Linked DNA regions of Homo sapiens. The protein of the gene in region 2 purifies or fractionates together with the protein of the main gene of each other region. This does not show direct contact. Each region holds a gene or a part of one and is shown on either strand. Other genes may lie near its edges.

Region 1 (3,652 bases), on a different chromosome or scaffold from region 2:
CTTAATAATTAAGTTCTGATAATTATTCAGCCTGAAAATTAAAAAAAAAATTAGCACAAGGCTTTGTAGGTAAGACCATTATAGATCTTTCTAAATATTTAAGGTGTGTTTTGTGTCACCATTAGGTGTAGATGGTCAGCCTTTTGAACAAACTGACACTACAGAAGAGGCAGGTTTCAGCTATCTAAAAAGGACAACTGTTAAAAAGTAGTTTGGATTGCTACGTTAGAGTGGTATCATTAGAAGCATTTAAAAGTTGAGTGTAGAGGCCGGGTGCGGTGGCTCACACCTGTAATCCCAGCACGTTAGGAGGCCGAGGCGGGCAGATCACAAGGTCAGGAGGTCGAGATCATTCCTGGCTAACACGGTGAAACCCCGTCTCTGCTAAAAATACAAAAAAAAACTCTACTAAAACTACAAAATTAGCCAGACATGGTGGCAGGTGCCTGTAATCCCAGCTACTTGGGAAGCTGAGGCAGGAGAATTGCTTGAACCTGCACGGCAGAGGTTGCAGTGAGTTCACTGGTATTAAGGTGGTTTAGTTATTACAGTATTTGGAAGTTGAACAAATGACTATTGAGGTACCATTTGGTTTTGACTTGAAATTTTAGCCAGTTCTTACAACTTGTAAATGAACTTTAGATCTAATCATGCGTGTTCCTTAAAGTTGTGTGCTTTTAACTTTCTTTTTTAGGGCAGCGGTCTTAATTCTTTTTATGGTCAACTAGAATACATAGGGAGAAGTGTTCATTATTGGAAGAAAGTTTTGCCATTGTTGAAGATAATAAAGAAGAACAGTATTCCTGAACCTATTGATCCTCTGTTTAAACATTTTCATAGTGTAGACATTCAGGTAACAGAGTTCCTTTATGAATTTATTGGAGATGGGAATTTCCAGTTTATAAACAAAGACGTGGAGCTATAAACTGCTTAAATTAATTGCCTTGTTATTTAACGGTAATCTTGTTTTCTAAATTCACTAGCTCTCACAGATAAGATATGACAGAGAAGAGTAATGAGATGTTTGTCTCTTAAGATCATATAAAATCTTTGGAAAATCATTTGGGTTTTATATTCTGAGTATAAACAATTTGACTAAAAACTATTCTATGTGTTTAGGCATCAGAAATTGTTGAATATGAAGAAGACGCACACATAACTTTTGCTATGTTGGATGCAGTAAATGGAAATATAGAAGATGCTGTGACTGCTTTTGAATCTATAAAAAGTGTTGTTTCTTATTGGAATCTTGCACTGGTAAGTAGATGCAGTACTTGAGCTAAAAGTTGTATTTATTTATTTATTATTTTTTTTAAAAGACGGGGTTTCTCTGTTGGCCAGGCTAGAGTGCAGTGGCACAATCTTGGCTCACTGCAACCTCTGCTTCCCAGGCTCAAGCGATTCTTGTGCCTCAGCTCCCGAGTTGCTGGGATTACAGGCATGAGCCACCATGCGTGGCCAAGCTGAAAGTTTTTTGTTTTAAAAAGCTAATGATTTCATGAAAGCACTATTTGTATAGATTTTTCACAGGAAGGCAGAAGACATTGAAAATGATGCCCTTTCTCCTGAAGAACAAGAAGAATGCAGAAATTATCTGACAAAGACCAGGGACTACCTAATAAAGATTATAGATGACGGTGATTCAAATCTTTCAGTGGTCAAGAAAGTAAGTAGCAGGTTGTTGTATGTACGTTCTTACTGATAACCCACTGGTCAGTGTTTTTGCGTTGGTCTTATATTTTGGTAATTTCAAAAATACTCAGTAATATGTTGTTATTAATGCACAGAAGGGATGCGTGTGTCTAAATGCTTAGATTTGCTTGCTTTGTCTTAGGTTTGGTGTGTCTTTTTAAACTTGGGAATCTAGGTATATGCTCTTAAAAAGTACTTCTTGGGGAATTAGAAAAGATTTCTAAGATAAGACATTGATTTTGTTATCTTAGCAGTGTAATCAAAACAAATATTATAACCTCAGGACTAATTCTTAATGAACTTTGCTGAAATTGAAAGTTGTTGCTGACAACTTAAGAGCATTTCTTCTCATCGTCATCAGCCATTATGAACGCCCTTGTTTTCTTGCTGTCAGCTGTTTGAGATTGTCATGATGATGTTAAATTATGTTCAGTCTTCTGAGTGTTTTGTTGATTAATTTGTGTTACTACTCTTTTATTAGGATTTATGTTGTCTGGTGTATTGTAGCATCTGTATTTCTGTCACCATTGAAAATCAGTTAGAAAACATCAGTAACTTATTTTGTTCACTTGGAAAAGCTTTCCAAGTTAACATTCCTCTACAATTATCATGGTTAACAGAAGTAATAGAAAGAGCATGGACTTTAGAATCAGAAGATGTTAGACTGTACAACACTTTTCTGTGTTCCTGAAGAAAAAAATAGAATAAAGACAAAAAAATAAAAATAATAATACAAAACAACAGAAAAACAAAGAAAAAAGATAATTAAAAAACACTTTCACGTGTATTATTATTTAAAGTGTAAAGTGCTTATTAAAGTGACAAAAATGTAAATAAGATAAAATATATCATTTTAGAGTTTTTACTTTTGGAATTTTTTGCAAATGAAAGCCCTTAATTAATGTCTTTTATTTTTAGTTGCCTGTGCCCCTGGAGTCTGTAAAACAGATGCTTAATTCAGTCATGCAGGAACTCGAAGACTATAGTGAAGGAGGTCCTCTCTATAAAAATGGTTCTTTGCGAAATGCAGATTCAGAAATAAAACATTCTACACCGTCTCCTACCAAATATTCACTATCACCAAGTAAAAGTTACAAGGTAAACAGGAAAGAATGGAATCATTTCATTGTGAAATTGTTTCTGTTCTAAGTGTTTTAAATGCTGTTTTGTTATTTTTATTTTTTTTTTCAGTATTCTCCCGAAACACCACCTCGATGGACAGAAGATCGGAATTCTTTACTGAATATGATTTGCCAACAAGTAGAGGCCATTAAGGTAAGTCACTTAATTTCTCTAGCTGTACTTTTTATTCCAAGATTCCTTCCCTGGCTACTCTCTCACTTTTTTTCTGAAGCTGGTCAGAATGTCCCCTTGCCATCCAAATAGTATGGCAAGGGGACATTTTGGTCTTTTTTTTTTTTTTTTAAGACAAGGGTCTTGTTCTGTTGTGCAGGCTGGAGTACAGTGGTATGATCACAGCTTACTGCGGCTTCAACCTCCTAGCTCAAGAGAGCCTCTTGGCTCAGCCTGCCACGAAGCCAGGACTACAGACAGTCACATGCCACCAGGCCCAGCTAATTGTTGTATTTTTTGTAGAGATGGGATTTTGCCATGTTGCCCAGGGTGGCCTTGAACTCCTGGCTCAAACAATCCTCCTGCTTCAGCCTCCCAAAGTGCTGGGATTGCAGGTGTGAGCCACTGTGCCCAGCCTACATACCTCGGTCTTGACCCTTTACCATATTTTGTTTTGTTTTGTTTTGAGATGGAGTCTCACTCTGTTGCCCAGTCTGGAGTGCAATGGTGTGATCTTGGCTCACTGCAACCTCCACCTCCCAGGTTCAAGTGACTCTCCTGCCTCAGCCTCCCGAGTAGCTGGGATTACAGGCACCCGCCACCAGGCCCAGCTAATTTTTGTATTTTTAGTAGACACAGAGTTTCACCATGTTGGCCAGGCTGGTTT
Region 2 (4,275 bases):
AGTGGATGTACCCATGGGATTTGCTTTGACCCAAGAGATGTGAGTGGAAGTGAAGCGTGTCACCTCGAGGCAAAAGAGTTGGGAGCCATTGAGACTGGCCACCCTCTCCTTCATCTCTTAGAGCAGCTGACAGCTCCCATATGGAGGCTGCTCCTTTATTCTCGTGGCAGGATGAGGGCATGTGGGGCACAGGGCACAGGAGAGCCATGGAGGATGTGCAGCATGGGCAGGAAAAGAGCCTTCAGTGGTGTACATTTCCATCGTTTGGGGCTGTTTCTTACCTACAGTGATACCTAGCCCATCCTAGCAGGCATGCACCATCTACCCCACACTCTGTGATGCAGACTAGCCTGCCGTCAGAACAGGAACTGGTGGTCAGACACACGTAGGTTTCAGTTCCAGCTCTGCCTCTTATTGACTGTAACCTCAGGCTTAACTTTCAGTCTCTGAGCCTCAGTTTCAACTCTGTAAAATGAGGTGGCTATACCATCTCAGGTTGCAGAGAGAATTAAATGAAATATAAGTGCATGTAGAGCATTGAACCCAGGGCCTGGCACACACAGTCAGTACTCAATGTTAGCCATGTAGCTTCATGATGCATACTGATTGTCAATATTCAGACAATCCAGTAAAGTATTACCAAAAATAAAAGTAAACTTATTTGCATATGTATTCTTTCAATCTTTATTTTTAAACAGGGTAAAACTATGCATATTCTTTCATAGCCAGTGTTTTTCTCTTCATAGTATATTGTTAAAATAATTTTATCTTGGACCGGGTGCAGTGGCTCACACCTATAGTCCCAGCACTTTGGGAGGCCACGGTGGGCAGATTACGAGGTCAGGAGTTGACACGAGCCTGGCCAATATGGTGAAACCCCATCTCTACTAAGAATACAAAAATTAGCTGGGCATGATGGTGCACACCTGTAGTCCCAGCTACTCAGAGGCTGAGGCAGAGGAATTGCTTGAACCCGGGAGACAGAGGTTGCAGTGAGCCAAGGTTGTGCCACTGCACTCCAGCCTGGGCGACAGAGTGAAACTCTGTCTCTCTCTCTATATGTGTGTGTGTGTGTGTGTGTGTGTGTGTGTGTGTGTGTATGTGTGTGTGTGTGTGTATCTATATAAATCTCAAAAATAAAAGATCATTTTTGAGATTATCATTTTAAAAGACAAGATAATGTTCAACTTAATGACTAATTTAATTATTACTATTGGACTTTTTGTAGACTGCACAGAGCATTCAAAACAAATGAAGGAGAATAAAAAATATGTATTACATGTTGTAAAATAAATGTGATGTGGTTAATTCTTTTATTCAAAATTATAGAACATATATATGTACTATAGAATGTATTTCTTATTATGAGTCATGTTAAAAAGTAGTTTAGAAGCTGTTGATTTGAATTTCCTTTTCAAATTTTGCAGGATAATTTTTTTTTTTTTTTGACAGAGTCTCGCTCTGTCGCACAGTCTGGAGTGCAATGGCATGATCTCGGCCCACTAAAACCTCCACCTCCTGAATCTAAGCAATTCTCCTGTCTCAGCCTCCTGAGTAGCTGGGACTACAGGCTCACACCACCATGCCCGGCTAATTTTTGTATTTTTAGTAGGGACGAGGTTTTGCCATATTGGTCAGGCTGGTCTTGAAGTCCTGGCCTCAGGTGATCCACCAGCCTCAGCCTCCCAAAATGCTGGGATTACAGGCATGAGTCACCATGCCCAGCCTAAACTTGGCAAGATAATAAATAACCTTTTTAAGTGTTGTTGGGCACTTGTCTGGTTGTTTTTCTTTAGGTTACCATGCCAGCAATGATTCCTTTTGAGTTTCTGACAGAAGATAGTGGTTTTCATCCAAATAAGTCAACTACTCTACCCCATCCCTAAGCCACTTGTATGGAAAGAAAAAGAGGAAGAAGCCAGTACTGTGACTGCGTAAGCTTCCCCCAGCATCACCCGCTATGAGATGTGTGGCAGCTGAGACCCGGGAACTGCTCAAGGGCACCAGGCCCCATCTGTCTGCACTCACTCACCTTCCTCAGGTACTCGCATGGGCATGTCACTGACTTTACATGCTGCTGCAGCTCCTTGGTGAGCTGGCTCTGGTCATGCGACAGGAACTGTGGGGTCAGGACAATAGAGAGCTTCACCATTTGCAGAATGAGAACAGGGGCTCATCATGAGTGCCAACCTATTAGATAATTTAAAAAAATAGTGTTGAATGAGTGGAAAAACAAGGTGATGTTTGAGTCTATAGTGGTCAAGGGCTTCAGAAAAGGACAGAACCAAGTTCAAATTCCTGTACTTTGAATTTCTACTTCATGCCATGCAAAATTACTTTACCCCTTTTAACCTCAGTTTTCTTCTGTGTGAAACAGGAACAATAGTTTCATTCGTCATTCAGTTTCTCTCAAGGTTTCACGAGATCATACCTATAAAACATCCAAGTCATTTAAATGTATCATCATTTCTGTCATAATTAGTGGGATCCATTTCACTATTATTGGATATACAGTTCTGTGCCTGAAACCTACAAAAAAAGAAAATGTTAAGTCTAAAAAGCATTAGTGATTTCTCATTTTTATATTACTAATTATAACCCTATTTAATCACACAAGGCCTTGTCCGTGGCAGGTGCTCAATAAACACTTGTCGAATCAATGCATGTGGGCTCCGGAGCCACACTGTTTAGATTCTATTCTGCCTCCACCACTTATCAGCTGTGTGATCTGGGTAAGACAATTCACCTCTTTATGTCTGCACTTCCCTCTCCATAAACTATATATAATGAGAATCCTTAGCTCATTCGGTTGTGGTGAGGGGTGAATGATTTGGCACACAATCCCAGCTACTCGGGAGGCTGAGGCATGAGAATTGCTTGAACCTGGGAGGCAGAGGTTGCAGTGAGCCAAAATTGTGCCACTGCACTCCAGCCTGGGCGACAGACTGAGACTGTGTCTCAGAAATAAAAATAAAAATAAACAAAAATCAATGAACTAAAAACCAATTTCTAGTGGTTTCTAATAAGGAAAAAATGGTTCAAAAAACTGCTAAGCGAGATCAAGCAAAACAAAAAAATCTATTACGATAATGTTTTTATAACTGGTATTTAAAACATTGTTGATTCATTCTTTATTTTTATTTTGAGACAGAGTCTCACTCTGTCACCCAGGCTGGAGTGCAGTGGCAGGATCTCCGCTCAGTTCAAGCAATTCTCCTGCCTCACCCTCCCGAGTAGCTGGGATTACAGGCGCCCGCCACCACGCCCAGCTAGTTTTTGTATTTGTAGCAGAGACCGGGGTTTCACCATGTTGGCCAGGCTGGTCTCCAACTCTCGATTTCAGGTGATCACCCCCTGCCTGGGCCTCCCAAAGTGCTGGGATTACAGGCTTGAGCCGCCGCGCCCGGCCCTTGTTTTGTTTTCTAGATTGAAGAAAGGTTTTTCTCAGAAGTTATCTAGAATTTACACCGATTTGGTAAAGCACACTTTTGTGAACAAAGGTGGGTGGAAGCGTTTGTTTTTCCTCCCTATCTGATCCTTCTAAAGTTTGGAAACTATTCATAAATATTCTTATTTTCATGTACATATGTTCTCTTTATAAGCAGGCTACAATCAGAAAGATTGGTTATATTATCAAGGCTTTGACTGAAACATCCTATTTAAGAATATGCAGAAAATTCCTGGCTTCGAGTTTGCAGCCTTACGTTACAGTCAGGGGGAAACTGTCACTCCCTGCAGGCCTGAGAACCTTAGAGCTTTTCGGGGAGCAACTTGGCAAGGGGGGGTCCCAGCAGCTGCTCGCGGGCCAGGAACCATGGGGCACAGCCCCGGGCGACCCTCGGGCCGGCGGGGGCCTTCCGCTTCCTGGCGTCTTTCTTCCCCGCCCCGCCGGCTGCTGGGGAAGCGGCGGGCGCCCAGTGCCTGGAGGTCGCTCCCTCGCCTCCTCTGGCTGCGGGAACGGAGAGGCGGCGGCGGCCGGAGCAGGGTGGGCGGCCTGAGCCGAGAGCCCGGCCGGCCCCCGCGAGGAATATGGCGACCTGCGGCGACCGGAGCAGCAGCGGCGTCAGTTGCTGCACCGCCGACTTCTTGGAGCAGCGAAAGCGACTCGCGAGAAGACGCCGCCAAGTGGAACCCGGGCCCTGCGGCCCTGGGAGGGGGCAGCAGCGACACAGCCATGAAGCCCCGGGCGCGGCGCTGGGCGCCAACGAGAGCCACGGCAACCTCCAGACGGCGCCACAGCAACCTCTAGGCAGTGCCCACACCAGCCTACAGGTG
Region 3 (3,652 bases), on a different chromosome or scaffold from region 2:
CCTCTCAATGCACTATTTTATTTTCTAATGTTGACTGTAGCAGGCCACACCATAATTGTGGGAGCAGAGTGGACTGTGGGGAGGAGGTGGGGGCTGGAGTTGGGGGAAGGAGAGGGGTGCTCCTCTGGGTAACATCCCAGGCCCCGGGCTCTCCCACGCACTCAGCTCCAGCCACTGATACCTCGGCCCTGGCAGCCCAATGCCCCATCCCTTTATTTTATTTGTTTATTTATTTATAGACAGAGTCTCGCTCTGTTGCTCAGGCTGGAGTGCAGTGGCACAATCTCGGCCCACTACAATCTCTGCCTCCTGGGTTCAAGCAATTCTCCTGCTTCAGCCTCCCAAGTAGCTGGGATTACAGGCATGTGCCACCACACCTGGCTAATTTTTGTGTTTTTAGTAGAAATGGGGTTTCGCCATGTTGGCCAGGCTGGTCTCGAACTCCTGACCTCAGATGATCCACCCACCTTGGCCTTCCAAAGTGCTGGAATTACAGGTGTGAGCCACCGTGCCTGGCCCTGTTATTTTTAATATATATATATATAAAATATTTAATATATATATAAAATATCATATATATATATATATATATATATATATATATATATAGAGAGAGAGAGAGAGAGAGAGAGAGAGAGAGAGAGAGAAAGAGAGAGTCTTGCTCTGTCACCCAGGCTAGAGTGCAGTAGTTCGATCTCGGCTTATTGCAACCTTCGCCTCCTGGGCTCAAGCCATCCTCTCACCTCCTCCCAAGTAGCTGGAACTACAGGCGCCCGCCACCACACCTGGCTAATTTTTGTATTTTTAGTAGAGAAGGGGTTTCATCCTGTTGGCCAGGCTGTTCTCCAACTCCTGACCTCAGGTGATCTGCCCGCCTCGGCCTCCCAAAGTGCTGGGATTATAGGGGTGAGTCACTGTGCCTGGCCCTGTTATTTTTAATTTATAAATAAATAAATATATATATACACATAAATATAAATTATGTATATATAAATATATATACATAAATATAAATTATGTATATATAAATATATATACATAAATATAAATTATGTATATATAAATATATATACATAATACATAAATATAAATTATGTATATATAAATATATATACATAAATATAAATTATGTATATATAAATATATATACATAAATATAAATTATGTATATAAATATATATACATAAATATAAATTATGTATATAAATATATATACATAAATATAAATTATGTATCTATAAATATATATACATAAATATAAATTATGTATCTATAAATATATATATGTGTGTGTGTATATATATATACGTATATATATATGTGTATATATATATACGTATATATATATGTATATACAGAGAGAGAGAGGGAGAGAGACTTGCTCTGTCACCCAGGCTGGAGTGCAGTGGCTTGATCTCGGCTTATTGCAAACTTCGCCTCCTGGGCTCAAGCCATCCTCCCACCTCAACCTCCCAAGTAGCTGGAACTACAGGCACCGCCACCAGGCCTGGCTAATTTTTGTATTTTTGTAGAGACGGGGTTTTGCCATGTTGTCCAGGCTGGTCTCGAACTCCTGGGCTCAAGCAGTCTGCTCACCTCAGCCTCCCAAAGTCCTGGGATTACAGGTGTGAGCCACCATGCCCAGCCTTATTTTTTTTAACCCTAGTTGCAATGGTGTGTGTGTGTCTGTCCCTGTCTATCCTGATGTAAATATTAGTTGACCTGATGAGGAATGGGCCATCCGGTCGCTGACTTCATGTTGGGGTACAGAGAGGAGGGGCGAGTTGAAGACCCCTCCCCACTGCCCCAGCCCAGGATCACTCAGCAGTGCTGCTTGCTTACAGGGGCCTTCAAGCTCTACGACTTGGACAATGATGGCTACATCACCAGGAATGAGATGCTGGACATTGTGGATGCCATTTACCAGATGGTGGTGAGAAGCCGGGTCTCGTGTGGTTAGGGGTGGCAGGAGGGGCAAAGCCAGTGACTGAGAGACAGAGAGAGAGCACTTGTGCAGCCATGCTCCTGCCCAGGGTGGAAGCAGGGGTCACTGGCTGAGCCGTTCTGTACATCTCTGCCTGGGCAGGCAGGCACAAGCTGGTAGATAGTGGGGCTGGGGTGTGGGATGTTCCAGGGCACAATGGCAGGGATGGGGAGGGGAAAGAAGAGGGGGGCGGCCCTCATCTGGAAACTGCCAGGTCTGGGGGGCAAATGCGTGGCCAAGAGCCCAAAGCCCAGAGTGCCAGGGCCCACCCCCGCCTTGTCCGTCCCTGCAGGGGAATACCGTGGAGCTCCCAGAGGAGGAGAACACTCCTGAGAAGAGGGTGGACCGGATCTTTGCCATGATGGATAAGGTGAGGTGGGGGGGCGGGGCTGGTCCTGGACCAGGGAGGCAAGGTGTCGGGGGCAGGAATTGGAGTCCCTGGATCCTGGGCCTGGCTTTGCTGCCAACCTCCTCCATGGCTCACGGCAGGCGGCACGGTGTCCTATCCCTGCTCAGCAGCTAGCCCCATCCAGTGTCCAGAGTCTTAAGTCAGTTTGCTCAGCATGTTTTCTTTAATCAACCAGAGTCCTTAGCCTTTTTTTTTTGTTTGCCATGGACCCCTTTGGCATTCTGGAGAAGCCTACAGACTTCTCAGCATAATGGCTTTAAGCGCATAAAATAAAATCCATAAGATCAAAAAGGAAGCTGATTATTTTAGAAAACAGCTGTCAGAGTATTTTAAAAAAAGAATCTGTGATGTAGCGTTCTGTGAGCTGCTTTCTTAACGCATTCACTAAGATGTAGTGGTGGGTCCAGCAACCCCCGAAATTGCGAGCTGTAATATCTGCAGCAACTAGGGTGTGTTATGAAAATACCTGTGATCCCTACTGTCGACAGATCACAGGTACTGCAGGTCCTGTTGGGGACCGTCGCCTAGGTTTCCATCAAAGGAAAAGCTACATTTCAGTTAGAGGTTAGTAAAAAAAGGCTGATTTTTTTTCCCCCAAGTTCATAGACCTGCTGACTTCTATCCACAGGCCCAAGGTTAAGAAACCCTTCTCTTTTTTTTTGAGACAGAATCTTCGCCCTGTCACCCAGGCTGGAGTGCAGTGGCGGGCGCGATCTCGGCTCACTGCAAGCTCTGCCGCCTGGGTTCACGCAACTCTCCTGCCTCAGCCTCCCGAGTAGCTGGGACTACAGGCGCATGCCACCATACCTGGCTAATTTTTTGTATTTTTAGTAGAGACGGGATTTCACCGTGTTAGCCAGGATGGTCTCGATCTCCTGACTTCGTGATCCACCAGCCTCGGCCTCCCAAAGTGCTGGGATTATAGGCGTGAGCCACCGTGCCTGGCCAAGAAACCCTTCTTTAAAGGGAACCAAAGCCAGGTGTGGTGGCTCACACCTGTAATCCCAGCATTTTGGGAGGCCGAGGCGGGTGAATCACCTGAGGTCAGGAGTTCGAGACCAGCCTGGCCAACATGGTGAATCCCTTTCTCTACTAAAAAAAAAAAAAAAAAAAAATCCGGGAGGCAGCAGTTGCAGTGAGTGGAGATCGCGCCATTGCACTCCAGCCTGGGCAACAGAGTGAGACGCAGTCTCAAAAAAAAAAAAAAAAATTATCCAGGCATGATGGCACATGCCTGTAATCCCAGCTACTCGGGAGGC

The links.
Region 1: the proteins of NPIPB6 (region 2) and RGPD5 purify together in Homo sapiens (affinity purification with mass spectrometry, with the first as the bait; one large-scale study listed by BioGRID). This does not show direct contact.
Region 3: the proteins of NPIPB6 (region 2) and NCS1 purify together in Homo sapiens (affinity purification with mass spectrometry; one large-scale study listed by BioGRID and IntAct). This does not show direct contact.

The regions. Positions count from the first base shown.
Region 1 is NC_000002.12:109,825,182-109,828,833, forward strand, and holds part of RGPD5 (RANBP2-like and GRIP domain-containing protein 5/6), read left to right. Parts: intron 1-694; coding exon 695-853; intron 854-1,119; coding exon 1,120-1,257; intron 1,258-1,519; coding exon 1,520-1,666; intron 1,667-2,610; coding exon 2,611-2,790; intron 2,791-2,883; coding exon 2,884-2,967; intron 2,968-3,652.
Region 2 is NC_000016.10:28,360,671-28,364,945, forward strand, and holds the start of NPIPB6 (nuclear pore complex-interacting protein family member B6), read right to left. Parts: upstream 2,839-4,275; 5' UTR 2,353-2,838; intron 2,191-2,352; 5' UTR 2,153-2,190; coding exon 2,033-2,152; intron 1-2,032.
Region 3 is NC_000009.12:130,220,806-130,224,457, forward strand, and holds part of NCS1 (neuronal calcium sensor 1), read left to right. Parts: intron 1-1,844; coding exon 1,845-1,933; intron 1,934-2,276; coding exon 2,277-2,354; intron 2,355-3,652. UniProt on the Homo sapiens protein: Neuronal calcium sensor, regulator of G protein-coupled receptor phosphorylation in a calcium dependent manner. Directly regulates GRK1 (RHOK), but not GRK2 to GRK5. Can substitute for calmodulin. Stimulates PI4KB kinase activity.